4 linked regions of the Homo sapiens genome follow. The main gene of each other region encodes a partner of the protein of the gene in region 4 in a complex. Each region holds a gene or a part of one and is shown on either strand. Other genes may lie near its edges.

Region 1 (7,020 bases), on a different chromosome or scaffold from region 4:
CGTCCACGTCTGCTCCGCACGCAGCAACCGTGCAGCCCTGAATTCATCGGTCGGGAAAGGCTCTGGCAAGCAGGGCCCTGAGAGCCAGTGCCAGACGAAGCTCGCTCCCAGCTACCAGAAAAAGGCTCTTGAACTTGCGCGGCAGCCTGGACTTGGGCCTCCCGAAGGCTGAGCTGCTTCCTAAAACTCCATCCACCTCCTAATCCCCCACCTGCCTGGCACGCTTGCTGTGCCCCTCCAGGCAGCTGTGGTCCTGGGAGTGATGGTGAGCCACCAGGGCCGCCCGCCTGCATGGAGCTGCTCCCCAGTGGGCGGGGTGGCCCCACATCCTGGACAGTCACTACGGAGGACTCAGGCTGCAGACGGGGCTGGACGGAAACGCAGCAGTGAGAAGGGGTTCAGAGGTCCTGGGTCCCTGACCTTAAGGTGGTGACTCATGCCAGGGATGCCTGAGTGACAAAGGCACACAGTGGCCTCGAGGTCACATGCCCGAGTTGCTTTATTCTGCAAGACAGTGAGATGCTACTGTGTCACAGCAAGGCTGGACCGCAGACTCTCCCACCTGCACCATTTCCTGCCCACCTGCGTCATACAGGTAGGTAGACTGAGGCAGGGAGTGCCCACACAGCCCGGTCACACAACAGGGAAAAAAGCAGACTGGACAAGGTGACCCGGGGCGCGGGACGCAGCTCCTGCCCCACAGACAAGGAGCCCCTCCAGATCCCTCAGTGGCACCAAGGGAGCTCCAGCAGGAGGGGGAACTGGGCAAGTCGCTAGGTGGCCAGCGGCCCTGAGCGGCCAGGCTAGGAGCGTCTGCACAGGGCCCAGGGCTCTACGTGGACCGAGACTTCTGATGGCAGCCGCGGCCACAGTGCGGCACACACCCCACTCCTGGTGCCTTCTCAAGGGAGCTGAGCTTGGGTGGGGGGGGCGGGCTCAGCTCTCAGGGACGGGACTGATGCCCAAGGCCCAGCAGTGGCCCCTCCACAGGAGGTACTGGGCAGAGCCCACCAACAACCTGGGCTCCCCTGGCTGCAGAAGGGCCGTGCCAGCTGTGAGAGGTGTGTCTGTGGCGAGCCGCCCCTCTTCCCAATAAAACCAAGGTCCTTCTGGCGCCTGCGCAGACCCACACGACCCATCTGCTGTCTCCCTCCAGCCATGCTGGCTGCAGGCCCTTGGCACCCTCTGCTCCCTACCAGATGCCATCCACCTCAGGGTCTCCCCGACCGGCCCTCATGGGGCCCTCCTTCCCTACACACGTCTCCCGTGCCCAACTTCCTCAGAGCCATCCTTTGGGGGCTCCCAGAGTCTGGGCCGGGCAGGATGAATGGATCCTTCAAGGGACCCTGGGGAGAGCCGGGTAGACGGAGCTGGCAGGCACTGGGGCAGTGACAGAGGACAAGGGTCTCAGGGTAGGAGAGCCCCAGACCGCAGGACTTATTTGGGAGGCAGCCGGTCGGGGGAGTAAAGGGGAGCCCTTCCTTCACACCAGCCATACAAGCTTCCAGCCTCAGTCATTTGTCTCACCTGCGATGTTTTGCTGTCTCGTTCTCTAATTTTGTCCTTTACAAGTTTTATTAATGAGGTGATATTGTAAAATTCTGCTTCCTCCAACACTCCTGGAATAAGGAAAAATAAATTGTCTTTACCAGACCAAACTAAACCAAAGAATCCACGCTTTACACCCACCCCTGCCCTTGCCCCTGCCCCTGCAATGAGGGCCCATGGCTCGGCCCAGCGGGAGCTGCTCAGGCCCCGACCTAACAGGCTTCCTGCAGACGTGTCAGCCCAGCAGGGCTCCTGGGATAATGGGCGGAGGGGCCGTGGTGAGAGGGCCGATGTGTGGACTGAACACCTCCAGCTCAGGTCACCCCAGGTAACCTTGAGTGACCTCCAGTGACCCGCCAGGTATGGAGCCGCTGCTTACATGCAGCTCAGCGTATGTCTACGCCGAGGCCATGGTATGCTGGGGGTTGGATCTGGCATTTTCCCTCCAAGCCTGGAGGCCGACGCTTCCTGCTGGGAACCTGCTCATGGCCACGCCACTGGGTGGGGTGCTGTGTGGGGCTCAGGCCTGCGGCCTTGTGCATATGTCTCAGTCACCTGGCACCTCAGTTGACCCCATTCAAAGGGAAGACTGTGGCTGGCTGAGAGGGTCACTTCCAGCTCTTCCCAAAGACTGCCATCCGTAATGTGCCGCACTTAGGGACTGCAAACCTCCCTTAAGAGCCTTAAGAGCAGATTCCACAGGTCCTGCCTCAGGGCTTCCTCATGGGTGGTCTTCATTCCTCCAGGACCCCAGAGGAACCCACATATGGCACATGGCAGCTCAGGACAACACCCAGCCACCTACATGGGACAGGGCCACGCAGGATAGAGACAAGGAGACGAGGGCCTCAGAGACACAGGCTTCCCGGCCCCGCATGGGTCCCGCACAGCCCCCTTCTCTAGCACCCAGGGCGTGAGTGGCTGCATCGGGGCGGGATAGAGGCAGACCGGTGAGCCTGGGCGGCAGGGCCTTGGTCTGTGTCTAGCGCCCGTTTCTGAGCCAATCCCACTAGGGGCAGAATGAGATAAAGCGAAGCCTCGACTCGAGCGGCTCCACGACAACACAAGCGGCTGCCCAAGCGACCAGAGAGAGTACATGTGAAAGACATTCCCTGCCAAAGAGACAGGAGTGGGGATCATGGCTCACAGCCTCAGAGCAGGGGCAGGGCTGGGCCACAGCCCCCGTCACTCCACGCCCCGCGTGAACTCGGAGGAGGCAGGCAGATGCCGAGGCCCAGAGGCCCAGAACAGAAACGGAGTCAGACGCTGCCCAGTGCAGACCGATGCGCAGACACGGACCCGGGGGAGCAGGGCCACGCCCGCACGCAGGTGCCCAGAAACCCTCAGCCTTCACGGCGAGGCCTCGAGCTGTTCTGAGCCAAGCCAGCACCGCAGCACACAGGCAGGCCAGCCTGGGCCCAACGCGTGTGGGCGCCGTCCCTGCACCACGATCACTCAGAATGGAACACGGCAGCTGGCAGCAGCAGGCACAGTCCAGGTGATGGCACAGAGACATTCACCACCCTTGGGCTGTCCTTGAGGGAGAGCAGGCCAGGGAACCAGGCCCTGAAGCACGCCGTGGGCATCACCGGGCATGTGCCTCACACACCCGCTCAGACCACCTCAGTCACAGCAGGGAGGAACCCCTCACACCCCTTGTGTCGCCAGCCGGAGCCTGGACAGAGGGAGCCCTCCAAGGAGCTGCAGCCAGGGAGGACCCCACACCCACAGGGTCCCCAGGCCTCCCTGTCCGGCAGCTGCGCCGCTGCCCGTGGCCTCAGCACCAGAACGTCGGCCCCAGCTTCAGAGTACAGGGCCTGCTCCTCCCTGGGGCCCCAGGCTGCAGGCATCTGTGTCTTAAGTGGAGCCCTTGGCACCTTTGTCGGGCCCTTGCCCCCAAAGCTAAGGCACCTGTGCCCAAAACTCGGCTTACCTTCCTCCGCGAGGTCTTTGTTAATCACCAGCTTGCCGTGTCTCAGGTAGTTCAGCACAGGCCCAAAGTAGGTGGGGTCTCTGTCGATTAAATAGGCGCCTGTTTCATCCTAAAGAGAGCAGAGCACGGTGAGTCCTCCGTGAGAAGCCGAAGGTTCCTGCAGGTCCACCAAGGCCCGGCCACCTCAGGAGGCTTCAGAGGCACCAGGTTACCCAGGCCTCTCCCCAGCACACCTGAGCCTGCGGCATCTCAGGAAACCCCTGACGGTGTGGCCACGTCCTGCCGCCTACAGCCTAACCCTGACCAGCCACCACCCCAGGTCTAAGTGAGTTTAAGTCTCTCCGTACGGAGGCAGCCTGGCTCTGCGTACTCCAAGGTGAGCCCACTGTGCCCTGGACCTCTGTCCTCACAACTGCAAGACCTCTAGGAAAACACACACGAAAACCTCACCCAGAGATGCCCTCGCGGGCAGGGCAGGGGCCTAGGGCTCAGCCTCAGAAGGACACCTCTGATGGCCACCAGCCTGGGCCTGCGCTCCTCGTGCCCGGGTCCTCCGCAGCCTACATGCAGGAACCGGGGGTCAGGGTGACAGGGGCTTCCTGCCAGGGGTGGAGAGGGCACCTTTCAGCAGGGGCGGCTGCCCAACAGGCCGGGAGCCAGCAGCGAGGGAGGCCACAGTGACCGGCACTCAACAGCATCCGGGGCTTTCCCCAAGATCATCACTCACCTCACAGAGCCCTCGCCCCGGCTCAGCGCTCACGGAGGCCGAGATGTTTACAAAACAGACCCCTCGGAAGGTGTCCTCACGCACCTGGGTGGAGGGACCCCTGAGAGGCACTGCCCCTGCTGCTACCACGGCCACTTCAATGTGGGCAGATGCCCTCTGAGGCCCGGGGTGCCCCACACATCACACCTTGCAGCCCCTTCCACAAAGCACAAGAGCCCCAGTGGCCCGGCCGTGAACACAGGACGGGGGCTCAGACGCCCCAGGCAGCCCCCATGGGGGAGACGGAAGAGGCAGTTTCTGTCTTGTCGGCTACACATCTGATGGGGGGACTGCGAAGCTGGCACAGCCTGTCTTCTACACAGACTCAGACCTTCCGTGTGGCTCTGCTGGGGCAGCTCCTGCCTCCCCCCACATGCCTGCAAGGGTCCTGCTCCCACCTGCGAGCCACTCCCACAGGGGCTGGTGCCTGCGGGTGCCCTGGAGGCCGGGGAGCTGAGGCCTCCGTTCAGAAACACCGGCAGCCTCCCCGGCGAGGCCCAGGGCCAAGCGCTGGAGAAGCAACCCCACACCCCATTCGGAGCAGGAGCAGCCCCCTCACCAGATGGTGGCTCCTGTGGGGCCATGGGCAGGCGCTGGCCACGGGAATGCCAGGCTCGCAGATATGGGGAGGCCGAAGGTGTCTCCACCACAAAGCACGGGGCCACGCTAGGACCCTATTTTCATCCATGGACAAATTCTGCCATTTGGGTGCTAAGACCTAGTGGTCTCAAGAGATTTTCCCAAAGTCCACCACCGCAAACCTGCAACAACCTGCTCTTTTTAGATCACAGGGACTGAGTTTTGTGGCTGAGATAAAATCAATTAGGGCTCCGGGCATGGGGGCGCTGGACCCGGAGCCTCGGCGGCCCCCCTACTCCTTAGGGTGACCCCAGCTCCACACAGACCTGACCCTATCCTCCTTCCCCACCCTCCCCCGGAACACTCCAGCCAGAGCTGCCCACCCCACAGGCCCTGCCTCCTGGGCTTGGCCCTGCCTTTCCCCAGCCCTCCAGACTCCACAGCTCTCAAGCAAGGGCCGGGGCCACAGGGCCAGCTCCCGGGAAGAGGACGCTGGGCGGTCCTGCGCAACTGCTAAAAAATGGACACCATTTCCCACAAAGGGGCCCAAGTCTGGCAAGGCGGCCAGTGCTGCCACCCGAGTCCAGGGTTCCTCCCTGCCCCACCCCCATACAGAGAGAATGCTGGCCGCGTGACGTCCGCACACCGCTCAGCTCAGGAATTATTCACGGCTCACTGCTACCTCGACAGACCGCTGGCAGGAGGTCAGGAAAGATCAGATAGGGCGGAGGCTCGCCTCTGCCCAGGACAACCCCAGAGAACCCCTTTGTCAGCCATGGAGGCCTCCAGGCCTGGCCTCAGTGGTCAGACTGCAGGCTCACAGCCAGGCCACCCCAAGCCTCAGTTTCTTTACGAGCAAAAGGTGGGGGAGACCAGCTCGTGTAGCTCGGGGCCGCCATGAGTGCCAGGGCACCCAACCTGTGGCAGGACCTGGGCACTGAGCCGTGACCTCTAGGCCAAGACAACCCACCATGTGCTTCTCAGGCCCTGGGCCGGTGCAAGAGGAGAAGGAAGCGTGCTGGGCGCCCCCAGACACACGAGGCAACCCCAGCCCTGCAACTGGAAGGATGAAGGCAGGAGGGAAGGAGGGCAGGGTGGGGACGGCCATCGGCGGAAACTGCACAGCAGGACAGAGGAACACAGACAGGTCCAAGGAGCCGGCAGGGCACTGAGCGTGCTGGCACTGGGCTCGGCCTCAAGACGGGCAGGCAGGGGTAGGCCGCTGCCGTGTCTTGGCCACTCCTACCACTGGGCGGGGCTGGCTTTTCCATTAAACACCCCCTTTAGGAGGCAGCTTTTGTGGCTGATGCTTTGAAGGAACTCCTGACCTCAGTCTGGCCACAGCTGGCCCAGTGCGGTGATGCCAGCAGCAGGCCAACTGGTGCAGCTGCTGCCATCACGTGATACCTGCCGCTGCAGGGAGGGAACAGGGAGGAGGCGAACAGACCCCACTCCCCACACCATAGCCCACTGCCCTCAGCATGGCAGGAGAGCAGCATGGTTGGGTGGAGAGGGGCCCCGATGCAGAGCTGGGGCTGTGCTTCGGGGGCCTGGGGTGGGTAGTGAGAGTGGCACCAGCGGTGAGGACCCAGCCAGTGGCACAGCCATCACACCCACCCCACTGAAGATGTCAGGTTCCCGGGCCTCGGGAGGAGGATCTGCGTGGGGCTGCCTGGGGCTGCAGCCCTGGGGTTCGCCCCACCCAAACTATGGCTGCAGACCCGGGCTTCCCGCTCCACGGAGCAGGCAGGCCCACAACTGCAGCTGCCCAAACCACAGCCTCAGGCATCCCTGCACTCTTGGGGGCCCAGAAAGGCCCCTCTGCCGGGCCCTTGCAGGCTCAGAAGTGCCTGCTCTCACTGCCTGGCTTACTCCTATTGTTGGTGCCTGCTCCGATCTTGGAGCAAAGTTGGGGCCGAGCCCAGGCGCCATGTATGGCAGCAGGAGGCAGATAGATTCCTGGGAAGAAGGGGGTAGGTCCCCGGTAAGGCCCCACCTTCAGGCCAGGGAGGGCATGAAGGCTGGGGCCGGGCTGCCAGTCCCGGGGACCAAAGTGGGGACTTGTGGTGCGTTTTCCGGGCCTGCCCATGAACCAATTAGTATGCACTTCCTTCCCTCTGGGTCCATAAGAGCCCTGGGCTCAGCCAGAGCAGGGCAGAGGACAAAGAGGACAGAGACAATTGGCAAGTGGAAG
Region 2 (7,020 bases), on a different chromosome or scaffold from region 4:
CAGGATGGACCAAAGCTGATGCTGTTTCCTAGGTTACTTGGGAACTCATTGAAGGTAGGAGGCTCAGAGTGGGCCAGGAGGACAGTCTGCCACCTTGTATGCCCATGCTTCACCAAGATGCATGGCAAATACAAAACAGTCACACATACATGCAGGAGGAAGCAAGGTCTCACACAAAGACACCATGGGTAGGCTGACCCAGCTGCCAAAACTGCAGACATTGCAGTCCAACCCCACATGGGGGAGGGGTGTCAGTCTCAAACAGCAAACCTGTGGGCAGCATTCTCCAGGTTCCTGGCATGAAAGCTTTGACTGTTCCAAGGGAAGCAAGTTGGAAACTGAGTTATCAGGCATCTCCTTGGGAATTAGGAAGGAAGACAACTTCTGCATTTGGTCTGGTGGGACCAGAAGAGAGAAACTGACACATCTGGGGTCACTCAACCATGAAGAGGCAGAAGATCTCTCTCCCTTGGGACACGCTTCCTCACGGGAGACCCTGGAGTTGGTGTACCTAGGAGAGACAGACTCTCCCTGTGACCCTGTGTTTCAGCAGATGCAGCCAGTTATGCCACCTCTTCAGTGTCATTACCACTTGGTGTCCAGATCCTCAGAAGAGAATACCTTAGGGGCCAGATATCCCACCCTCAGTTCCCTTTACTGCCTGTAGTTGGGCCACTCCAGATCCAGCCATCTTCTTGTCTGGCCTGGGGCCTAGTTGAGAAATCTTTGACCATGACTTTGAGTCACCTTTCTTACCTACTTTTTTTTTTTTTGAGATGGGGTCTCACTCTGTCACCCAGGTTGGGGGGCAGTGGTGTGATCTTAGCTCACTGCAGCCTTGAACTCCTATACTCAAGTGATCCTCCTGCCTCAGCCTCCTGAGTAATGGGACTACAGGCATGTGCCACCATGCCATGATCATTTGTTATTTTTTTGTTTGTTTTGTAGAAACGGGGTCTCACTATGTGGTTTTGGCTGGTCTCAAACTCCTGGCCTCAAGTGATCCTCCTGCCTCAGCCTCCCAAAATGTTGGGATTGCAGGCATGAGCCACCATGCCTGGCCATCTTTCTTGCTTTCTGTGGGAAAAACCTCTCAATCAATGTCTCCTCCCAGCTTGGCCTCCACTTCCTGGAGTGGATTGCTTTTCATCCCCAGTTAAGAGACTTTTGGGGAAGGTGGACAGAGCTGGGGTGGTCAGACGTACAGTCCTAGTACTAACAGCATGGTTTTCCTGAGCTTCCCAAACGAGGTGCATCTCCTTGAGTCAGCATCCTGCATTGCTTGGAGGCCACTGCAGGTTAAGGAGGACTGACCAACTTTGAGGCCCACCTGGCATATTTCTGTCTTGATCCGATCACAGCAAATTGGTGGTCAGAGGGGAACAGGCAGCTGGTGATGTTCACCCAAGCTCAGACCCAGACTGACGTAGAAGTGCTAGATTGAGTTTGGGAGTCTAATATTGCCAACCCCAGCCACTGGGTGGGAAAGGCATCCCCAGGGCCCTTTGCTGGTGCTGTCTGGGATTCAGGCCAGGGAACTTGGATTCCATTTCTTAGTGTTATATGGACACAGCTCTCTGAGCCTCGACTGCCTGTTCTGGACCTTCAGAGACCCTCAACTCCCTATTTCCACAGGACTTTTCACTCATGGTGCCCTGCCATCCTTAAGCAGGACCTGTAAGCACACTTACAGGAGACAGTGGGGAAACTGAGTCATAGAGGCACTGAGCAGTTTAATGGAGACCATACTGGGTCTATGAAAAAGGGAAGGGGGAGTGGAACCCAGCTCACTGTGTAAGCTCTGCCCTCCCCAGAGAGGGGCAGTGGGAGGAGGCCCCTACCTCATGCTCCCGCCTCTACTGTACAGGGCTCCCTCCTTCCAGCCATCCTAGCAACACTCAGTGGGCTCGTCGCCATGACGCCAGCCTGTGGAGGAAAGTGGGGAGGGGACCAACACAGGACCCCTGTGGCAGAAGCTGCCTTGGAACTGAGAAACATCACTAGAACTCATCAAGCCCTCCACCCACCTGGTGCAGATGAACTGAGGTCTGAAGAGGGGAGACCACCTGCCCAAAGGGAGAAAAGCAGTCAGTAGGATGGCCGGGATTAGATCTGGCTCTCAGTTCCTAGTTCCTATGAAGTAATGCAGGGAGAAGACAGCTGGCTGGCAGGATGCCAGCAGCATCCCTCCAGGGGGGCAAGGGGCTGCCTTTCTCTACAGGCTTTTAGGTACCAGACCTTCTCAATCTAGATAGACAGAATCCTCCCTCCCAGGACATCCCCAGAAGCCACAGAGTTCTGGGGGCTCTCAGAGATAGCAGGAGACCACCACCCCAGAATGAGGATAGCCATTCTTGGTGTGAGCAGGATTTCCCCTACCCAAGGACATGATGGCCCCTCCTTCCAGGCCCCAGGCCACCTTCAACTCCCCTCCCCTTGCTGACAATGCCTTAGCTGTCTACAGGGAGCCCCAAGCAGCATCATCTCCCCTGTGTGCCATGGCCCCACGAGGTCAGCATGTTCTCTGTCCCCTTCACACAGATAAGAAAACTGGGACTTGGACAAGGAGGGCCTGCCAGTCCCTCAGTGAGTCATGGCAAACCCAGGACTTAGATCCAGCCCTGCTAAATCTGAGCCCAGGTTCCTCCCACTCTCCCTTGCCCCAGCTGCTCTCCTGGCAGGTGCTGTGTGTGAAAGGGACCGCCTGCCTGACTCTGAAGCACCTGGTGAGGGTGGGCAGTCAGAGGGGCCCAAATGCCTGTACCTGGGGCCCAGCCAAGAAGCCCTGTGGGGAGCTCCCTGAGGATCACTGAGATGGGGCTCCTCCTTCAGCCCGTCTTCAGGGCTCCAGGCTCTGCTGTGGCACTGGTGGTAAGGAGTGCACAGGGAAGGATGCTGGGACCTCTGACTTAAGGAGCAGGTGGGAGGAGAGGAAAGGGCCAAGGCCCAGGTCCCCAGCCAGCCCTTGATTGAGATTTAGATGGCACATTTTGAAAAGCAGTATCCTTCCAGAGTATTCTGGTCCTGTGCCATAGGGCTACGGACAAGCAGCCGCTGTCTCTAAAGCCAGCAGAATCGAGGCCCATGCCCTGGTCCAACATTTGAGGCCTCCATGATCTGGCTTATTCTTCCCTCCCTCCTCTTCCACTTCCGCTCCCACCCTCCCTTCCATCTGACACATCATTAGCTCAATTTTTCAAGGCACTGTTCAACAACACTTCCTCCATGAAGTCTTCCAAATTTACTTTCCCTTACTCTTGGAATAACTCCCTTCCATGTGCTCTGACTGTCTTCACTGTGCTATTTTACTTGGGAGCCTATATCAAAAAGTTCTCTTTGAGAGTCTGCCTGTCTGTCACTCTTCCTAGAACAGGAGCCCCTGGAAGGCAGGCTCAGGTCTTATGCATCTTTGAAAAGCTTGTCTCTAGGCTCCTCAATTCTTTCTGGGGGAAAGGGTAAAATACTCAGAACCCCAATAAGGGGTGAGCCTGAGCAAGACGATCAGGTGGCTGGAGGATTCCTGGGGAGAGCAGGAGACAGGAAAGATCAAGATGCATGCAGAGGTGGGTAGAAGCTAGAGCAGAAGCCAGGAGTTCCCAGAGCCAGCAGAGGCCTATCAGGGCCCAGACTTGCTGTAGAACTCTGAGCAGCTGTGTTTCCCTCTCCTGGCCAGTCATTTCCTACCCTTAAGTGGGGAGGGGAAGGCTGGACTCGGAACATAGAGCGCTCTGCAGCCGGGCAGCTCTGGGGTGTCTGGATGGCCACAAGGGCATCCACTTCTGCTCTATTTCTCTTCCTTCCTTCTTTTCTTAGCTAAACCTCTGTGATGGCCATGCCTGTCCCACCTTCCCTCTCTCCCAGCAGGGAAGTTGTTCTCACACATGGAGTAACTTGTGGCCCTTGGAGAATGGAATAGAGTCAGGGGGGATCAGGTCTCGCTGGAGTCTGAGAATGCAGACCTGAGTTTCCGGATTTACAGCTTCTACTTCTTCAACCCAGAGGGCAGGGTCTATCTGGGGTCCTCCTGAGGCTTGCACCCCTGCACTGCGCCTGTCCTTAACAAATGTGGCATCCCAACTGCTCCAAGACCTTTAAAGTTTACCCCCACTCCCTCCAGAAAGCCTCCCAGGAATGTCCCAGTGTCCACCAAGCCCCTCTTCCCGATCTCTGACTGTTGATTTGCACAAGCCTCCTTGATAAGCAGCCTGGGGCTTCCTGAGGGCAGGTCTCAGCCTTTCTTATCACCTCTGACTCTTAGGGCTGAAGAAGGGATTCCTGCATAAGCAGGCAGACCCAATGGGAGAGACCCCTCTGGCTGGAGACCACTCAGCTTATGTGTTTCCATTGTAACACAATCAGTGCTTAAGCATGTCTCTAGAATGGGGTTCTGGGAAGTGGGGACCCCTAACCTCCCCATGTGGCTAGGTTAGATGGGATGCCCCTTCTTCCCCTGTCCTGGCAGATGCCTCAGTACAGATGACCCCAGCCATTCCCAGTAGGACATTGCGGAGCTTGAGGTCAAGGAGGCTGAGGCTCAGCCAAGCTGCACTTAGTGGTTCCACAGAAGGAAAATGGACCATGGCCAGGAGGGAGGTGGCAAGACCCTCCTTTGCAGCCAAAAGGACCGTAGGGACAGGCAAGATGAGGTGCAGGAGGAGGGCAGATAGAAGGAGGGATGGGAGTGGGGAGACAGTGGGTTTGGAGATGGAGTCGGGGGATGAAGAAGGCAGTAGGGAGAGATGGAGAAAGAGAGAGAGAGGTAGAAAATGAGAGAATCTGAGAAAGACAGAAACATACACCCAGAAACAGAACCACACATAGAGAAAATCAGAAACAGACAGGGAGACAATGAGAGAGACACAGAGACAGAGATGTACACACAGAGATGGGCTCAGAGGAGTCCGTGTGGAATGGGGAGAGGTGGGAGGAAAATGGAATATAAGTGCCCCACTTCTGGCCAAACCACTTCCATGCTAATCCACTTCCTTTCGGCCTACAGACAGGGAGACAGGCCCACAAAAGGGATGAGACTTGCCCCAATTAAATTGTATATGGACATTTAGGATTGTTTCTAGCCACCCAGGATTTGAACCTGGGTTCGGAGAATCCTGGGGTAAGACCGAGGCTACCTCCCCGCCTAGAGCTAAAATGCCAGATCCTTACTTCCCAGGATCCCTTGTAGCCAGAGCTTTGGCATGGGATTTGGGGCTCCACATATTCCCCCACCCATCAGATGCACCTACCCGAGGGAATTAGTGAACTGGAGGCCCCCAGATGGAGACAGGGAGAAAGCCTCTCCAGAGATAACTGCAGGAAGCTTAAGACTCCAGGTTGGCCAGGTGCAGTGGCTCACGCCTATACTCCCAGCACTTTGGGAGCCAGAGACAGGAGGATCGCTTGAGTCTGGGAGTTCAAGACCAGCTCTGGCAAAATGGCAAGATCCCAACTCTACAAAAAATTTAAAAATTAGCCAGGTGTGGTGGCATGTGCCTGCAGTCTCAGCTACTCGGGAGGCTGAGGCAGGAGGATTGCTTGGGCACAGGAGTTTGAGATTGCAGTGATCTTTGATCATGCCACTAGTGGTGGCCAGGGCTGGTGGTGTTGGCAGGGCCTTTCAGGGAGAGGGAGGTCCCCTCACAGGGCCAGCTCTGCCCTGTGTTCTTGGCTTGGGGCCCCAAATCTGGTTCTCTAGCCCACTCAGTGATTCCATAAGCTCCCCAATATCTTTTTAAAAAATTTCTTCTCTGCTTAACCTAGCAGAGTTGCTTTTTGAAAGGCAGCAGAACCTGGGTTTGAATCCTTGTTCTGTTACAAGTGACTTCATTGCTCCACACCTCAGTTTCCCCATGTGTAAAATGAGGATAATGCCATGTCTCTGTCACTCGATGGTGCAAGGATTAAATGAGTTAAACCACAGTACAAACATGTGGAAGCTCAGCCACTGAAGCGCCAGCACAGGTTGTGTAGAGAACACCCAAGGAGACTCGTGTGCTTAACTTGGCTCTGCCACTGACTAACATGTGTGGCCATGCGCTAGTCCCTTCCCTTCCCTTGGCCCTGCTGCATCTGGAAATAACTCTGGGTAAGATGGCTCAAGGCTCTGACCCAGCCTCCCAAACTCACACACTGTAGCTATTTGCTAACCCCACATCCTGAGGACTTCTAAACGCCTTATCTCCACTCTTGGTGCTCTCTTGAGCTTTTCCCCCACCCAACCAGCTGCTTCCTGAACATCTCCACTCAGCTGTCCCTCCAGCTCCTCAAAGTCAACACATCCCCAACTGTGCTCAGCTGTTTCCTGTGTGCCCAACCTTTACCTTGCCATCTCTCACCATATCTTGTCAATTTCAAATGCCCAAGGTTGCTGGCGTCTTCAACCTCATTTGCTCTTACAGCCTGCGGTCTACCTGGGTCTGTGCAGAAATCCCCTTACTTCTCCTTTCCCTCCAGAGGACAGTGTGCTCCCAAAATTGAGCTTCTCTGCTCACAAGCTCACCCAGGCTCCCTCTCCAGATGGTGAAGCCCTGTAGAATGCCCTGCATCACCTGACCTCCATGCCCCTCCCCAGCCTCATTGTTTCTTTCTCCTACTCCCTGTTCTCCATACAACACACTCCTCCCAAGGCACAAAGCCCAGCCTGTCTCCTTGCCTTTGCTCAGTCCCCTCAGCCTAGAGGGCCTCTCCTGTGCCTATTACACTCACCTGCTAAAATCCAACCTGTCCCCAGAAGTCCAGCTCAGAGGGCTAAGTCCTCCCTGATCCTCCAGGCCGGAGGTATGAGTCTTCTTTCCAAACCTCTAAGCTCTCCTCGCAAACCGAATGCCTCTTGTGGAGGGAGTACTGCCCCATGGTTAATAGCGAGGGCTGTGGATTCACCTGCCTGCACTGGTGCATAGGAGCTGATTAGGACTTTCAATAAGTTACTTCATGTGTCTGAGACTCAGTGTTCTTGCCTGCAATATGGGCATAAAAGCAGTATGTATCTCAGAGGGAGTGTGGGCGAGTGGGATTATGGATGCC
Region 3 (7,699 bases), on a different chromosome or scaffold from region 4:
TTTACTTGGTTCGTGGCTTTGAGCGAGTTCATTAATCTAATGGGTCCTCAATTTCCTCATACATAAAATAATGATAATAGCTTGTAACTCACAAGGCTACTCTTAGCTTAAAACATATTTTTTGTAAAAGTACTAGATTATCATTGGCACCGGGTATATGGTAGTTAGTGTGCCAAGGGGAATGATGCTATTTTCCTCTTTCTCCTCTTTCAAAAGGGTACGTATTTGTACTTTACACAGTATACAGGTCTTAAGCAAAAGGAGATGAAATTGTATGTTTCATCAAGTATTATTTTCAACATCTCTTAAAGCTGGAGTTCATTTACTAAAACATTTTCTGGATGGGCAGATCAATTTCAAACTCAATAGCTTGTTTTCTGGATAAAAAATGTTTTTCCGAGAAGCTGTTACGGTCTAAATATCTAACATCAAATATTAAAATATTTTTCTTCTAATTGTAAGATCAAGTTATACATATATATGTATGTTTATACATATATGTTTCTTTTTTTTAAAGAAAAAACTATTTGACCAGCGATATAACAAACAACATTTATTTTTATCAAAAGCCTCCCACATCAATGAGTTCTACCAAGTCTGGTGGAAACCCTCTTGGTCAGTGGCTCTCAATCCTGGTTGCATATTACAATCACCTAAAGAAATACATCAAATTGCAGACCCTTTCCACAGATATTCTGATTTGATTGAATTGGGGTAAGGCTGAGCATCCGTATTTTTTGAAAGTTCTCCTATTAACCCTAATTTGCAGCCCGAGTTGAGAATACTGATTTAGATTATCATTGAAACCATTACCGGTCTCCTATTTCCATTTCACTAGGACTCTAATAAAAACCAACAGTAGATAATATTTCCATTCATGTTAACATTGACAGAGTCTGAGAGGTTCATCAAGAACAGAATTGCCATGGCACAACTAAACTAATAGTTAGCTCCCTTTCTTCAACTGATTAGAGCAAATGCTCTCCATCCACCATCAATCATTACCTCCAGTTTCAAAATGAGAAACAGAAGACGTATTTATATCAGCTATTTCTTTTTAACTTTGAGAATCATGAAACAAAACAACTCCAAGATTATCTATGTGTTCTTATAAACTGGTTATAATGAAGATTTCTTGTTTACTTATTGTGTTGATGTAGCCAATGAATAAACTTAGAACATTTTATAATATGACCAGATATTATTCTTGGGCTATAGTTCATAAAATAAACTACAGGTTAGAGGCATTGAACCAGAACAAATCCTGGCTGATGGATGTTTTGAGTTATGTTAAAATATTGAGTAGAAATGAGTATCCACTGAGAATACCAACTTAAACTGTAAAGGTTTTACAAATCTAATCATCTTAGTTTCTCTCATAATACTGGTGTATAACCAGCAATCTCAACTTTTTAAAGCTGAGTTATTTTACTACTGAACTCATAGGCTAGCAATATCCTATTAGAAATTACACTTTATAAATTCCATAATACTAAAAGCATTCCTACTTTGTCCTTAATGGTAAGTCAACTGGCCCAAATACATAAAATATTTGCTTTCTATGATCATTTAAGACAGACTTAAACTCGGACGCTCTGTAATTTAAAGATTAGCTTTAAGAACTACATTGTAAAACTTTGACTTATTTTGAACATTTCACCTTCAATCACCGAATAATTTCAACAAATAGCCTTACATAGATAACTTGATTCCGGTTAACCACAGCCTGGAAATAGTCAGGGTCTCCTTAAGATCGGCAAGTGAAACCCTGCGTTCTCTTCTTGCATATGTCACATAGTATTAGGTTAAAGCTTTCATATGAAACTTTTCTTAGGTAGATTTGCCAAATAAAGTCTGTATGATAGTTTACTAATCTCAATTGTATTGTTGATTTTTGACTTGGACCTCAAGGAAAATGAATGTTTTGAGAAAAGGAATTAATTTGTTACAGCTTTTCTTGATGTCTTTCACCCAGGCTTGGGAAGAGCATCATGAAAAAGAGTACTCTTTTGGAAACTATGCACACAACATATTTTTCCTAATAGGTGTGAAGAATGGCTGCTATGCATAAATGATTGTTGGAAAACTATTCTCTGTAAAACATGACTTAACAAGCAACTCCATTCACTACTGTGCTCATTTCCAATATCCAGAACAACCATGACACATCTTATAGATGCTGATATTATATGTTTGTCAGTTAATAAACACCCTTTGGGAAAATTCACAACTTTAACCTCCGTAATTTTCCTACCCAATAAGTTGGAGAATAAAACTTTTGAGGGAAAATTGATATGAACAACATAGTAAAAGTCACAAGAAATCAAACGATTCTTCAATACGAAACCATAAGTTGTTGGCTCTTCCCAGGACACCTATTTTTCTTTTTTCTTTGACAAGGGTAAAGTAAAGCATCTAAGACCTAGCTGACCCTACATGAGAACCACAAGCACCGCAATCAAACCACATTTCTATAATCAAAAAGCAAGGTGCCTATAGCACCTGCACTGTTAAACATCCCTTGGACACCCCAAATCGTTAAGTCCCGCTCATTTCCAAACGCTCCTTACCTGGAATTCTGTCACTGGGCGGCTGGGCACAGCTCAATAGAAGCAAAGGGTGTTCGCAGGTGTGGCTCCAGGGACTCAGGCGCTCAAGCTTCAGCGCCCATCTCCTGGGCAGGAGATGTCAGCCGCAGGGTGAGGTGCGGACGTGCGCACTTCTCCAACCCGGGAAGGTCCGCCAGCCGCGCGGCGCAGCCCACCCAGACGCTGGTGGGCTGGCTTTCCTAGTTTGATGCGAGAGCAAACTGCGTTAGTCTCAGTCCTCCCTCTCCGCCCCTCTCCTGGTTTTCTGACACTTTAAATCTGTCTTAGGTGGTTCAGACCCAAGTCTAGGTTGTATTATCAGCTAAAAGACAACTGTTCTTTCCCCTGGCTTGCTTTCTACCTCCCCAGAGTCCAGGAGGCTCACCTTCCCGGCGCCTTCCTGCGCTCTCCCAGCTGTGAAGCTGTGCGCAAACTTCTCCTGACTTAAGAGTCTCAATCCTAGCCTGCGCTCCCGCCCCACCCCCGCCCGCCTCCCGACAGGCGGCAGAGGAGGTGGCAGCAGAATTGATGAGAGCCAGCCCCCCTTCCCGGACCCCGCCACCCCAGTCAGCCCCCTCCTGTCCCAGGAGAGGGAGGGGCGAGCTGGTGAGCTCCGTGCGCCTCGCGCCAGCCCCAGTCGCCCCGGCCCGCGAGTGGGGCTGCGCTCGCGGCTGCTGTCTCGCTCCAGTCAGGGCTGGGGCTCACCCTGCGAGTCCGGGAGACTAAAGCGCCGCGTAAACACAGGAAGCAGGCGAGGGACCCGAGTTAGACCTTGAGTAGGGAGGGAGAGGGGGGCGACAGTCTGGACTGGGAGACAGCTTTCTGGGAGCCCTGTCCCCTCCCCGGAGAATGCAAATTCCGGAGGGAGGTGAGTTTCCACAAGAACCTTATCCCAGAGACATTGTGACCCTGGCTTCTTCAGCCGCCACTCCGGGGACAGCACTAGGGAGCCTGTGGAGGGAGGGTCGGTAGTGGGCTAGGTAGTGAAAGTGGGGTGAGGACGTGGGAAGACGGCTGGCTAAGAGCTGGGGTGCTAAAAGGAAAAAAGTGCTGAGAGGAAGGAGATGAGAAGAGACACCTTGGGGGTCAGGCAAGCCCTGGGAAAGCGTCCGGAGTTGGGCGGCTGTAGGCTGGAGGCATAACTTGGATTTGGAGAAAGAGTGCCCTCCGTGTAGGGGACTGCTGGTGGGCACAGTGTTTTAGGGTGAATGAAAACAGAGAGGATGGCGAGGGAAGACGGGGATATGGGGTGCCTGACTTGGTGCCGGACACTGCGACTCCTCTTCTTTCCCCCTAAAGCCCTCGATGTCAGCAGGAGTCCGGGACAATCCAATACCAGGCGGGGCGCAGCGGAGGCTGGCAGGCACGCCCTGGGAGGCAGGCAAGTTGATTCCAAGGACGAGTCACCCTCAACCTCTTTTAGCCCACAACTGGGTGGATCAAGGCAGGAGCCAACACTTTTTTCCCTAACTCTGTTTAGGCGGTGTTGGACTAAGAAAACAGCATCCGGTGCGTCCCGGGACCACAAGGTGGCCGTGCACCGTCGAGGTTACTAAACACTGTCTCCTTGGCAAAAGAAATAATAGCAATCATTTAATGGGAGGGGAAGAAAGCCAGACGGCGACAGCACACTTTCCCTGGTGATCTTAGGTTCTCATAAGCACACGGGACAACACCGGGTGACAGAGAAGGAGGTGTCCTGTGAATGGAACTGCAGCCCTCACCCAACCATCCTTGGAGCTCTTCCATGGAAACATCAGTGACTGTAGGCAAAAAATGTCCCCGTTTTATTTTGCATGCTCCTGTTTTATTTTGAATCCTCATACCCCACCCCAGAGAGACAACAGGGACCCCTAATTTGTGTGGTTGAGGCTTTCAGGAGATCCAGTGGAGGACAGACTCAAGGATCAGATCAGCTCTCCCACCCAACATTCCAGGGATTTTGTTTTTCCAGGCTCCCTCCTCTATATACTCCCCCCTTCCCTGTCACCTCCAGTCTGGTGACCCAGAGGGCTGTGTGTGACTCACTGTGCATTCAAACCCTAAGGCACTGCCTCACTGCAGAGGAAGATTGTACAGTCCCTTCATTCCCAGGATAAGTGAGAATGATGTTGTTAGCAGTAAGAAATGTGACTAGGAAAGGAGGCTGGGCAACTGGGAGACAAGGAGGCTTTGAAAGGAACATACACACACACACACACACACACACACACACACACACACACACACACACACACACACACACAGACACAGTAACTTAAACAAAGCCTGTATAAGAAACCCTTCCGAATTCAGAACTTAGATAGGAATCTTCACTCCGTGCTGGGTTGGGCTCAATCTGTCTTGAGTTCAATAGCTCCCTGCTTTCCAACTGCTCCTGACCAGCCAACACTTGACCATGACCTCCTTTAAGAATTCTCTTTTGGAATATTAATTACCTTCTTTTGGTGCAAACAGCAGAGAAATATTAAAGTTGTTTGAGAGTCTCCTATGGTCAACTGCTGGGGCCAAACATTGAGAATTTCTCAGGTTGTAGCCCAAGTCACTGAAATAACAATGATTCAGGGAGACTATTGCTGAGTAGAAAGTGTTGCCGCCCTCGGCATTGTGTGATAGAACAAGTACAAGGAGATTTTTCCGCTGGAGGTTAAATCCTAGGGCAGCCTACCTGATATTGATAACCAGTATTCTGAGAGCAGGATGGGCTTGATTCTATAAATCTAATGAATATATGTGGGATGCAGCCCTTAACCATAATGTAAACAAAGTCTAAAAGTTATTGAGAAAAATGGCATGGGTGTATCATAAAACTTTAAACTGTTTGTGGTCTAAGCATAAGCAACCTCAGCTGATTAAAGTGTGAACTGTGTTAGATACAATATTGGGGGAAACAATGAGAGTTCTCTGTAGGCAGAATATTTCAGGGAAGGTGACACAGCAGAAGCAAGATCAGGGATGAAGCTCTCTTGTCCCCTAAGAAGATTAAATTGACTTTGTCAGTAACAGATATTTATTGAACACCAAAGGGGTTATGTACCTGTTGGAAACACTTGGATTTTACAGAAATTTAAGTCTACTGCTTTCTTAATATTATCACAGTATTTCCTACATGGACACAGTGTGGTAAGTTTTTGGAGGGTGGATGTTAACATGGGGATGGTCTGATAAGGGGAATTGGCATTGTTTTGAAAATGTTATGAGACCCATTACTGGATCTTGAAATCAAGTTAGTGGGCATAAGTAACATTTAAAAAATGAAGTGGAATAGGATAGAAAATATCAGAGTTCATCGCCATTTGAAAGCACAAGAGTGGTTTCTTGAAACTTGTCTTATTTCTCTCTCTCTCTCTATCTCTGTGTATGAAATTGCAAAGTAAAATGTATTTCTTTCTGTAGATCACAAAAATACCTAAAGACACTGGGTTAGAATAAGCTATTCTTCAAGTGGAATACCTTATATTTGCAAATAAGCTTTCAAATGAAATTAGTTCATCAAAGGGGCATTCATAAAATAAGCATCTTAAAATGTGGTAGTCACACATTCCTGGTACTTTTATTGATTATTTATTTTAAAATCCCCTGTCTTTATGATACTTTGCCCCTTTCTCTCTGTCCCTCTTCCTCTTTAGAAAATTTCCCCTTTGGACAGTTACTAATTTAGGGAGAAGTATTCTGTGGATCTTGTCTACAGACTTTTCAATGCAAACTCCACTTCAATTATGAAACCCTCCATCTACATTGCTGAGGGTGTGAAGTTCTGCCACTAGCAAAGGATTATCTGACCTCTCAACTCTGTCTTTCCAAGCAAGGTTTGCCAGAGTTTGAACCATACATACCACTTTCTGGACACTTATGGTTCGAGAATTCAGTGACTTTTCCTTAAAAATCACTAAAGTTTTGAATTTCAGTGAATGGAGGGAAGATTGCCCATTATTAAAGACTAGCTCTATTAATACCTATTCCTGTTAAATATGGTTAATGTGAGGGAGGTCACACTTTGTAGAGACTGAAAAAAGTCATTTAGTTCTTCTTGGAAAAAAATTGTTGTAAGGTTAAATAGAGTTTATTCTTTTTTTAACAGGAATTTAGAGAAAAAATTTCTGGACTCTCTCAGGAATCCAATGGTTAACTTGAATAGCTCCCTATCAGCAAAGTTTTCCTTACATTGAAATCCAGCTCAATCCGTTATGCTTATGTGTTGGTAATTTAGTACATATTTAACACCACATAATTTCACAACACCCTTGGCTAGCCGCTTATGGGGGACCCAAAAAGCACAATATGCAGCTCCTACCCTCAAGAAGCCCACAGTCTATTCAAGAACATTTGTTTCTTCCTCTTGTAGTCTCCTTCCAAATAGACAACAGCTGGTAATTATTCTTTATATAATTACTCTTCCTAGATTTACAGGCCTCACCATGACAGGGCAAATAATAATTTGCCTTAGTGAAAAATAAATGTTTTCCTTTGAAAACAATTCGAACTTTGACCTGATAAATCATGCTCTCTTGAAGGAAGTGTCCTGCTTCGATTTTCCACCTGTCTTTCAGAAACAGGAGCTGGGGTACTTGTAAGTCTCTCTTCTCTCCTCATCTTTCCAAGGGTGTGACACGGCTGTGTTTCTCTAGAGAACGTGTCTTTTGGCATGGAAAAAACAAATTCCACTTGAACTAGGAAGTGTCTTTCCAGATTGTACTTACATAAACTTCACTTTGGTTAACTGTTAACTTAATGTGTAAATAACTCAGAGTAGGAGGAGATGGCAGGGACTTACACCATAAAGCAGCAGTGGAAACTAATTGCTCCATCTCTGATGAAGTTCAGAAATATCCATTTCTTATATTTTAAATAAAATTCTAAAGGGAAACCCAGGAGCCAGAAAAAATACTGCAGAAGCAAATGTACGCAGACATTCATTCATTAATTCATTCAACAAATAATGAAAAATTGCGGCCTCAAAGCTTATATTCTAGTGGGAAGAGGGAGATAGGTAACAAACAAAATAAGAAGTAAATTGTTAATTTCAGATACTGACAATGTTAAAATATCATTAACAGGGAACTGAGAGGCAGGCATGGGGTAATGCTATTCTAGGATAGCCAGGAAAAGCT
Region 4 (7,020 bases):
GGATCACGAGGTTAGGAGATCGAGACCATCCTGGCTAACACGGTGAAACCCTGTCTCTACTAAAAATACAAAAAAGAAATTAGCTGGGCGTGGTGGTGGGCGCCTGTAGTCCCAGCTACTCAGGAGGCTGAGGCAGGGGAATGGCGTGAACACCCAGGAGGCGGAGCGTGCAGTGAGCCGAGATCACGCCACCGCACTCCAGCCTGGGTGACAGAGCGAGACTCCGCCTCAAAAAAAATAATTAATTAATTAATTAAAAAATGATTGATAAAAAGTGAGTATCCAAAGCATATAATGTACCCCAGGTAAACAGCTTGTGTCACTTGAAGCTTATGAACAAGGACAGGTACCTGTGTGTCCTGCCAGCTCACGACTCACGCGCACGTTCCCCTCACGAGTTTTCAGATTGTAAATGGAGCAAATGTTATCCAGGCCACCGCAGGCCACATAGTTCCCAGAAGGGGCATATGCACAGGTCATGACCCAGGAGGAGCGCAGAGGGATGGCGTGGACCTAATGACAGAAAGACAGATGATGCAAACAACTTTATGTTCAAAAACAACACTGACACCAGGATTTTCTCATCTCCAACTTTCACTGCAAAGGAGGTAACAGAACAAAATAAGAGCCAAAATTATCTAGAGAGCGATTCCCATATGTGGCCACTCAGGTGAAGCATACTTAATGAGAAGTCCAGTGCTGCACATGGGATTCAAATTCAATCCACACAGTCCAGTTTTACTGAAGTCACAACTTATGATTAGGTGGAGTCTTAACAGTAGTGCTGCCCACTCATCAAAACCACATTAGGCCGGGTGCGGTCACTCACGCCTGTAATCCCAGCACTTTGGGAGGCTAAGTCGGGCAGATCACCTGAGGTCAGGAGTTCAAGACCAGCTTAGCCAACATGGTGAAACCCCATGTCTCTACTAAATATACCAAAATTAGCTGGGCGTGATGGCGCATGCCTGTAGTTTCAGCTACTTGAGTGACTGGGGCAGGAGAATCACTTGAACCCGGGAGGCGGAGGTTGCAGTGAGCTGAGATCACGCCACTGCACTCCAGCCTGGGCAACAGAGCGAGACTCCGTCTCAAAAGAAAACAAACAGGCCGGGTGCGGTGGCTCATGCCTGTAATCCTAGCACTTTGGGAGGCTAAGGCGGGTGGATCACCTGAGGTCAGGAATTCGAGACCAGCCTGGCCTCAAATTGGTGAAACCCTGTCTGTGCTAAAATACAAAAATTAGCTGGGTGTGGTGGTGGGCGCCTGTAATCCCAGCTACTCAAGGAGGCTGAAGCAGGAGAGTCGCTTGAACCAGGGGGGTGGAGGCTGCAGTGAGCAGAGATCACGCCACTGCACTCCAGCCAGGGCGGTAAGAGCAATGCTCCGTCTCAAAAACACAAAAAAACCCACACGTATTGGAAGGAAAACACTGCATTATCCTGTCAAATGGCTATGAACTCATCTGAAAACAAAAAATTTTTTTTTCGAGATGGAGTTTCGCTCTTGTTGCCCAGGTTTGAGTGCAGTGGCGTGATCTAGGCTCACTGCAACCTCTGCCTCCTGGGCTCAAGCAATTCTCCTGCTTCAGCCTCCTGAGTAGCTGGGATTACAGGCGCCTGCCACCACTCCTGGCTAATTTTTTGTATTTTTAGTAGAGACGAGGTTTCACCATGTTGGCTAGGCTGGTCTCAAACTCCTGACCTCAGGTGATCCACCTGCTTCAGCCTCCCAAAATGCTGGAATTACAGGTGTGAGCCACGGCGCCCAGCCGAAAACAAAAGATTTTTATGGAATAACCAAAATGGACATTCCTACAATCTACCCTGCCACATCTCTCCCACTGTTTTAGATCTGCTGTAATTAATGCAATCATTTATACACATTTAGTATTCTTTAGTAAAATAAACTGAATTACATCTTTTACATACATGTTTGGACCAATGACAATACTTTTTATTCAAAACAATACACTTTGGATTAAGTCTTGAAAATAACATAAATTACACTTTAAAGTATGATGTCTTTCAGATGATCTCTTCTAAAAACTTGTAACTGAATGAAAAGTGATACTTCTGCACTCTATAAATAAAACATGAAACTTCCCAGACTCTGCTAAAACTGGAATTGAGGTCTCCTAGAAACACAGAAGGTCCTTAGCTCCCACCAGCTTGGTAAGGAGATGACGGACAACAGCACAACTGTGCCTGGTCCAGAGGAAGAGACCGTGACAGGTGGCACGTGACTCAGCTTCTATCTCACCTGCGCAACTTCACTACTAACAAACAGAGCTTGCCGCTGCTGCCTTCCCTATCCTGTATTACGTGATTTAACAAAATGAATCCAGAGCTTAAAACCCTGTTTCCTGGGTTGGTTTTTCAAGGAAGGGAATCCTCCAGTCCCTACCTTGTTGGTGGTGTAGCTGTCCCAGATGATAAGTTTACCATCCTGCGAGGCACTGACGAGAAGCCTGGAGGGACAGACAAAAGCAAACCTATCAGTACCGCACAACACAGAAAGTGTACAAGAGCAACAGACTAAAACCCAGACTCTGGTGGCTTATGTGCTCCCATGTTACATGTGCTTCAGACAAAGCCACTTATTTATAAGAAAAAAAATCTCTGGTCGGGCACAGTTGCTCACGTTTGTAATCCCAGCACTTTGGGAGGCTGAGGTGGGCAGATCACATGAGGTCAGGAGTTCAAGACCAGCCTGGCCAGCATGGCGAAACCCTGTCTCTATTAAAAATACAAAAATTAGCCGGGCATGGTAGTGCGTCTCTGTAATCCCAGCTACTCGGGAGGCTGAGGCAGAAGAATCGCTTGAACCTAGGAAGCGGAGGTTACAGTGAGCCACAATCATGCCACTGGACACCAGCCTGGGCAACAGAGTGAGACTCTGTTTCAAGAAAGAAAGAAAGAAAGGAAAGGAAGGCTCTAAATGTCAGACCAACTTCAAAGCATGAACAAAAACACTGTCACAGACCACAGTTGAGAGTGGAGATGCCTGGCCCCAACCGAATGCAGGCCACATCACCCCTGGCACCCATTCCCTTTGTCAGCTGAGACAGGCTGACATCATTTCATAAGTGTTTCTGTTTGGTTTCATTACAAATCAAATTAGAGGCTCATGTCTTTAATCCCAACACTTTGGGAGGCCAAGGTAGGTGGATCACAGGAGTTTGAGACCAGCATGGCCTCATGCTAGCATGGTAAAATCCCGTCTCCACTACAAAAACACAAAAAAATAGCTGGGTATGGTAGTGCATGCCTGTAATCCTAGCTACTCAGGAGGCTGAGGTGGGAAAACTGCTTGAACCCAGGAGGCGGGGGTTGCAGTGAGCCAAGATTGCGCCACTGCACTCTAGCCTGGGCAACAGAGCGAGATCCTGACTGAAAAAAAAAAAAAAAAAAAAAAAAAAAAAACAAACAGAAAGAACAAACCACTTTTAGACATTCCAAATTCATGAAACATTTCTCACCCAAAATACCCCATGAAATTTCCCAGACTGAGCTAAAATTGGAATCAAGGTCTCCTAGAAACCAAAGGAGGCGTTCCCTCCTCACCTGCTTGGTAAACAACAGCACCACTGCGCATGGTCCGGGAGCAGAGACCAGTAACTATCACGAATTTTTTCTTTTTTTCTTTTTTTTTTTTGAGACGGAGTCTCGCTCCGTGGCCCAGGCTGCAGTGCAGTGGCGCCATCTCGGCTCACTGCAAGCTCCGCCTCCGGGGTTCATGCCATTCTCCTGCCCCAGTCTCCCGAGTAGCTGGGACTACAGGCGCCCACCATCACGCCCAGCTAATTCTTTTTGTATTTTTAGCAGAGACAGGGTCTCACCATGTTAGCCAGGATGGTCTCGATCTCCTGACCTCGTGATCTGCCCACCTCAGCCTCCCAAAGTGCTGGGATTACAGGCGGGAGCCACCACGCCCGGCCTCTTTTTTTTGTTTTTGAGATGGAGTTTTGCTTTTGTTGCCCAGGCTGGAGTGCAATGGTGCGTCGGCTCACCGCAACCTCCACTTCCCAGATTTGAGCAATTTTCCTGCCTCAGCCTCCAAAGTAGCTGGGATTACAGACACGCGCCACCACAGCCAGCTAATTTTGTATTTTTAGTAGAGACGGGGTTTCTCCACGTTAATCAGGCTGGTCTCGAACTCCCGACCCTCAGGTGATCCGCCCACCTCGGCCTCCCAACGTTTTGGTATTACAAGCGTTGAGCCACTGCGCCCGACCATGAATTTTTTCATAACTATTTCCTTGCTCTGGCAACTGTGCTCAGTTCGGAATCCACATGTTGAAAAGGAGCTCCATACTACAAAGGAGAATATGAATAAGGAGCAAAAGAATTTCACCTTAGCAGGCAAGTAAGGTGGGTGAAAGGTAACTCCTGGGAACCACAGTTGCTTATGAGAGGTCCTAAGGAACCCTGTAGCACAGAATGCTGTTTTCAAGGAAGAGCAAGAAGGTTCCACTGTTTGATGCAGGGATATCTGTCAGTACGGTAAATGATAGTATAAGGATTTTTAATTTTAAAGTTTCTATCAAACGCAAGGTTTTTTGTTTGTTTGTTTTTGTTTGTTTGTTTGTTTGAGACAGAGTCTCGCTCTGTCACCCAGGCTGGAGTGCAGTGGTGTGATCTCAGCTCACTGCAACCTCTATCTCCTGGGTTCAAGTGATTCTCATGCCTCAGCCTCCCAAGTAGCTGGGATTACAGGTACGTGCCACCACACCTGGCTAATTTTTGTATTTTTAGTAGAGATGGGGTTTCCCCATGTTACCCAGGCTGGTCTCCAACTCCTGGCCTCAAGTGATCCGCCCACCTTGGCCTCCCAAAGTGTTGGGATTACAGACATAAGCCACAGCGCCTCAAAACACAGGTTTTAACTATTTCAGCTGTGAACATATGTGGCTTCTTAAAGCTGACCTAAAGCTGGAGTAACGCTCTCTCAAGTTTTGTTGATAACTCTGACACTTTTAATATCAAACTAGATGTTTTGATACAGGTGTCAATGAGTTTAAGAACAAATAAAAACCTTTTCACCTGCACTTTATTACAAAATTTATCACAGAACTAAAAACTAAGTGCAGGCTCCCATCCTATTATTTTTCAGATGCAATTTTTTTTTTTTTTTTTTTTTTGAGAGAGAGTCTCACTCTGTCACCCAGGCTGGAGCTCGCTGCAACCTCTGCCTCCCAGATGCAAGCAATTCTCGTGCGTCAGCCTTCCCATTAGCTGGAATTACAGGTGTGCACCACCATGCCTGGCTACTTTTTTGTATTTTTAGTAGAGACAGGGTTTTGCCATGCTGGTCTCGAACTCCTGAGCTCAATCTGCCTGCCTCGGCTGGGATTACAGGCGTAAGCCACCGCACCCAGCCTTCAGTTGCAATTCTTAAAGCAAACTTCTCAATCCAGGTTGTCATCAACATATTAAACATTTAAAATTATTTCTACGTAATGGTATCATGTTCCCACTCTAGCTTTATTTCTGCCCAGCCCTTCTGAGACTTTCTGTCGAGTATCAGAGCTGATCTAAAGCAGCTCATCCTCCTAGATTAGGAGGATCACCTTTACAGAGGTCTCCCGGTCAGAGAGCTTAATAACTGCTGACTTCCAGAGGGATTAGGGACACGTAAGCTGTCCACTGATCCTCCAGAAGGTGAGAGAAGACATGCCTCCTAGTCCCGGGTCAGGGAGCTGTTGGAAAGCTGGGTTCACGTTGCCTAGTAGTGCCTTTACCTACTCAAAAATCAATTATCTGAGGTGCCACTCACCTAGAACATAGAGGCAAGGGCCAGGAAGCAAGCTAACAGGCTCCAGGACCCTGAAAGTAGCTGTCAAAAATCAAAACACCTAATGCCCTTCATTTTACTCAAAGGAGGGAGGGTGGTGGCTCATGCCTGTAACCCCAGCACTTTGGGAGGCTGAGATAAGAGGATTGGTTAAGTCCAGGAGTTTGAAACCAACATGGGCAACAAAGGGAGACCCTGTCTCCACAAAAAAATATATATATATATTTTTTGAGATGGAGTCTCGCTCTGTCACCCAGGCTGGAGGATCTCGGCTAACTGCAAGCTCTGCCTCCTGGGTTCATGCCATTCTCCTGCCTCAGCCTCCCAAATAGCTGGGACTACAGGCACCTGCCACCGCGCCTGGCTTATTTTTTGTATTTTTAGTTGAGACAGGGTTTCATTGAGTTAGCCAGGATGGTCTCGATCTCCTGACCTCGTGATCCGCCCACCTCAGCCTCCCAAAGTGCTGGGATTACAGGCCTGAGCCACCGCGCCCGGCCCACAAAAAATATTTTTTAAAAATTAGCTGGGCACAGTGATGTGCACCTGTGGTACCAGCTACTCAGGAGGCTGAGGCAGGAGGATTGCTTGAGCACAGCAGTTCAAGGCTTCAGTAAGCTAGGATCGCACCACTGCATTCTAGCCTGGACGACAGAGTGAGACCCAGTCTCAAAAAAAAAAAAAAAAAAAAAAAGTTGCCTTTTAGTACAAATATATTGATAAACATATTACAAATGTACATCTGATACATTAATACATACATACATAACAAGTAATCATTGTGGGCCTTGCATGTAGTTTTCTTTTTTGTTTGTTTTTTTGAGACAGAGTCTCACTCTGTCACCCAGGTTGGAGTGCAGTGGTGCAATCTTGGCTCACTGCAACCTCTGCCTCCTGGGTTCAAGCGATTATCCTGCCTCAGCCTCCTGAGTAGCTGGGATTACAGGCACCCACCATGAAGCCTAGTTAACTTTTGTATTTTTGGCAGAGACAGGGTTTCACCATATTGGGCAGGCTGGTCTCAAACTCCTGACCTCAGGTGATCCACCCGCCTTAGCCTCCCAAAGTGCTGGGATTATAGGCGTGAACCACGGTGCCTGGCCTCTCATGTAGCTTTATTTGTGTTTTGTTTTGTTTTTTGAGGCAGAGTCTCCATCCGTCACCCAGGCGGGAGTGCAATGCGCATGTTTGTGGGTATATATATACATATATATATATTTTTTT

What was found.
Region 1: the proteins of GNB1 (region 4) and KCTD5 are in contact, whole or in part, in a cryo-EM structure (PDB 8U7Z), measured with the Homo sapiens proteins. Residues at the interface, in NP_001269468.1 of Homo sapiens: Arg52, Gly53, Leu55, Lys57, Tyr59, Gln75, Asp76, Gly77, Lys78, Thr87, Asn88, Lys89, Val90, Ala92, Pro94, Leu95, Arg96, Ser97, Ser98, Trp99, Met101, Leu117, Gly131, Asn132, Val133, Arg134, Val135, Thr143, Tyr145, Gly162; in NP_061865.1 of Homo sapiens: Val157, Arg159, Val160, Leu161, Gln162, Cys163, Gln164, Glu166, Glu167, Gln170, Met171, Thr174, Met175, Ser176, Asp177, Trp179, Ser190, Tyr191, Val205, Lys207, Leu209, Glu219, Ser221, Lys223, Ala224, Leu227, Gln228, Arg230, Gly231, Ser232.
Region 2: the proteins of GNB1 (region 4) and CRHR2 are in contact, whole or in part, in a cryo-EM structure (PDB 6PB1), measured with the Homo sapiens proteins. Residues at the interface, in NP_001269468.1 of Homo sapiens: Arg42, Gln44, Arg46, Arg52, Phe292, Val307, Ala309, Gly310, His311, Asp312; in NP_001874.2 of Homo sapiens: Arg142, Ser143, Lys372, Arg376, Asp379, His380, Ser382, Val385.
Region 3: the proteins of GNB1 (region 4) and CALCR are in contact, whole or in part, in a cryo-EM structure (PDB 8F0K), measured with the Homo sapiens proteins. Residues at the interface, in NP_001269468.1 of Homo sapiens: Thr47, Arg52, Phe292, Ala309, Gly310, His311, Asp312, Trp339; in NP_001158210.1 of Homo sapiens: Arg174, Ser175, Arg404, Gln408.

What each region holds. Positions count from the first base shown.
Region 1 is NC_000016.10:2,692,505-2,699,524, reverse strand, and holds part of KCTD5 (BTB/POZ domain-containing protein KCTD5), read right to left. Parts: intron 3,591-7,020; coding exon 3,482-3,590; intron 1,620-3,481; coding exon 1,528-1,619; intron 1-1,527. UniProt on the Homo sapiens protein: Its interaction with CUL3 suggests that it may act as a substrate adapter in some E3 ligase complex. Does not affect the function of Kv channel Kv2.1/KCNB1, Kv1.2/KCNA2, Kv4.2/KCND2 and Kv3.4/KCNC4.
Region 2 is NC_000007.14:30,672,455-30,679,474, forward strand, and holds part of CRHR2 (corticotropin-releasing factor receptor 2), read right to left. Parts: intron 1-7,020. UniProt on the Homo sapiens protein: G-protein coupled receptor for CRH (corticotropin-releasing factor), UCN (urocortin), UCN2 and UCN3. Has high affinity for UCN.
Region 3 is NC_000007.14:93,571,719-93,579,417, forward strand, and holds the start of CALCR (calcitonin receptor isoform 2 precursor), read right to left. Parts: upstream 3,007-7,699; 5' UTR 2,974-3,006; intron 2,789-2,973; 5' UTR 2,571-2,788; intron 1-2,570. UniProt on the Homo sapiens protein: G protein-coupled receptor activated by ligand peptides amylin (IAPP), calcitonin (CT/CALCA) and calcitonin gene-related peptide type 1 (CGRP1/CALCA).
Region 4 is NC_000001.11:1,804,069-1,811,088, forward strand, and holds part of GNB1 (guanine nucleotide-binding protein G(I)/G(S)/G(T) subunit beta-1), read right to left. Parts: intron 2,471-7,020; coding exon 2,407-2,470; intron 514-2,406; coding exon 351-513; intron 1-350. UniProt on the Homo sapiens protein: Guanine nucleotide-binding proteins (G proteins) are involved as a modulator or transducer in various transmembrane signaling systems.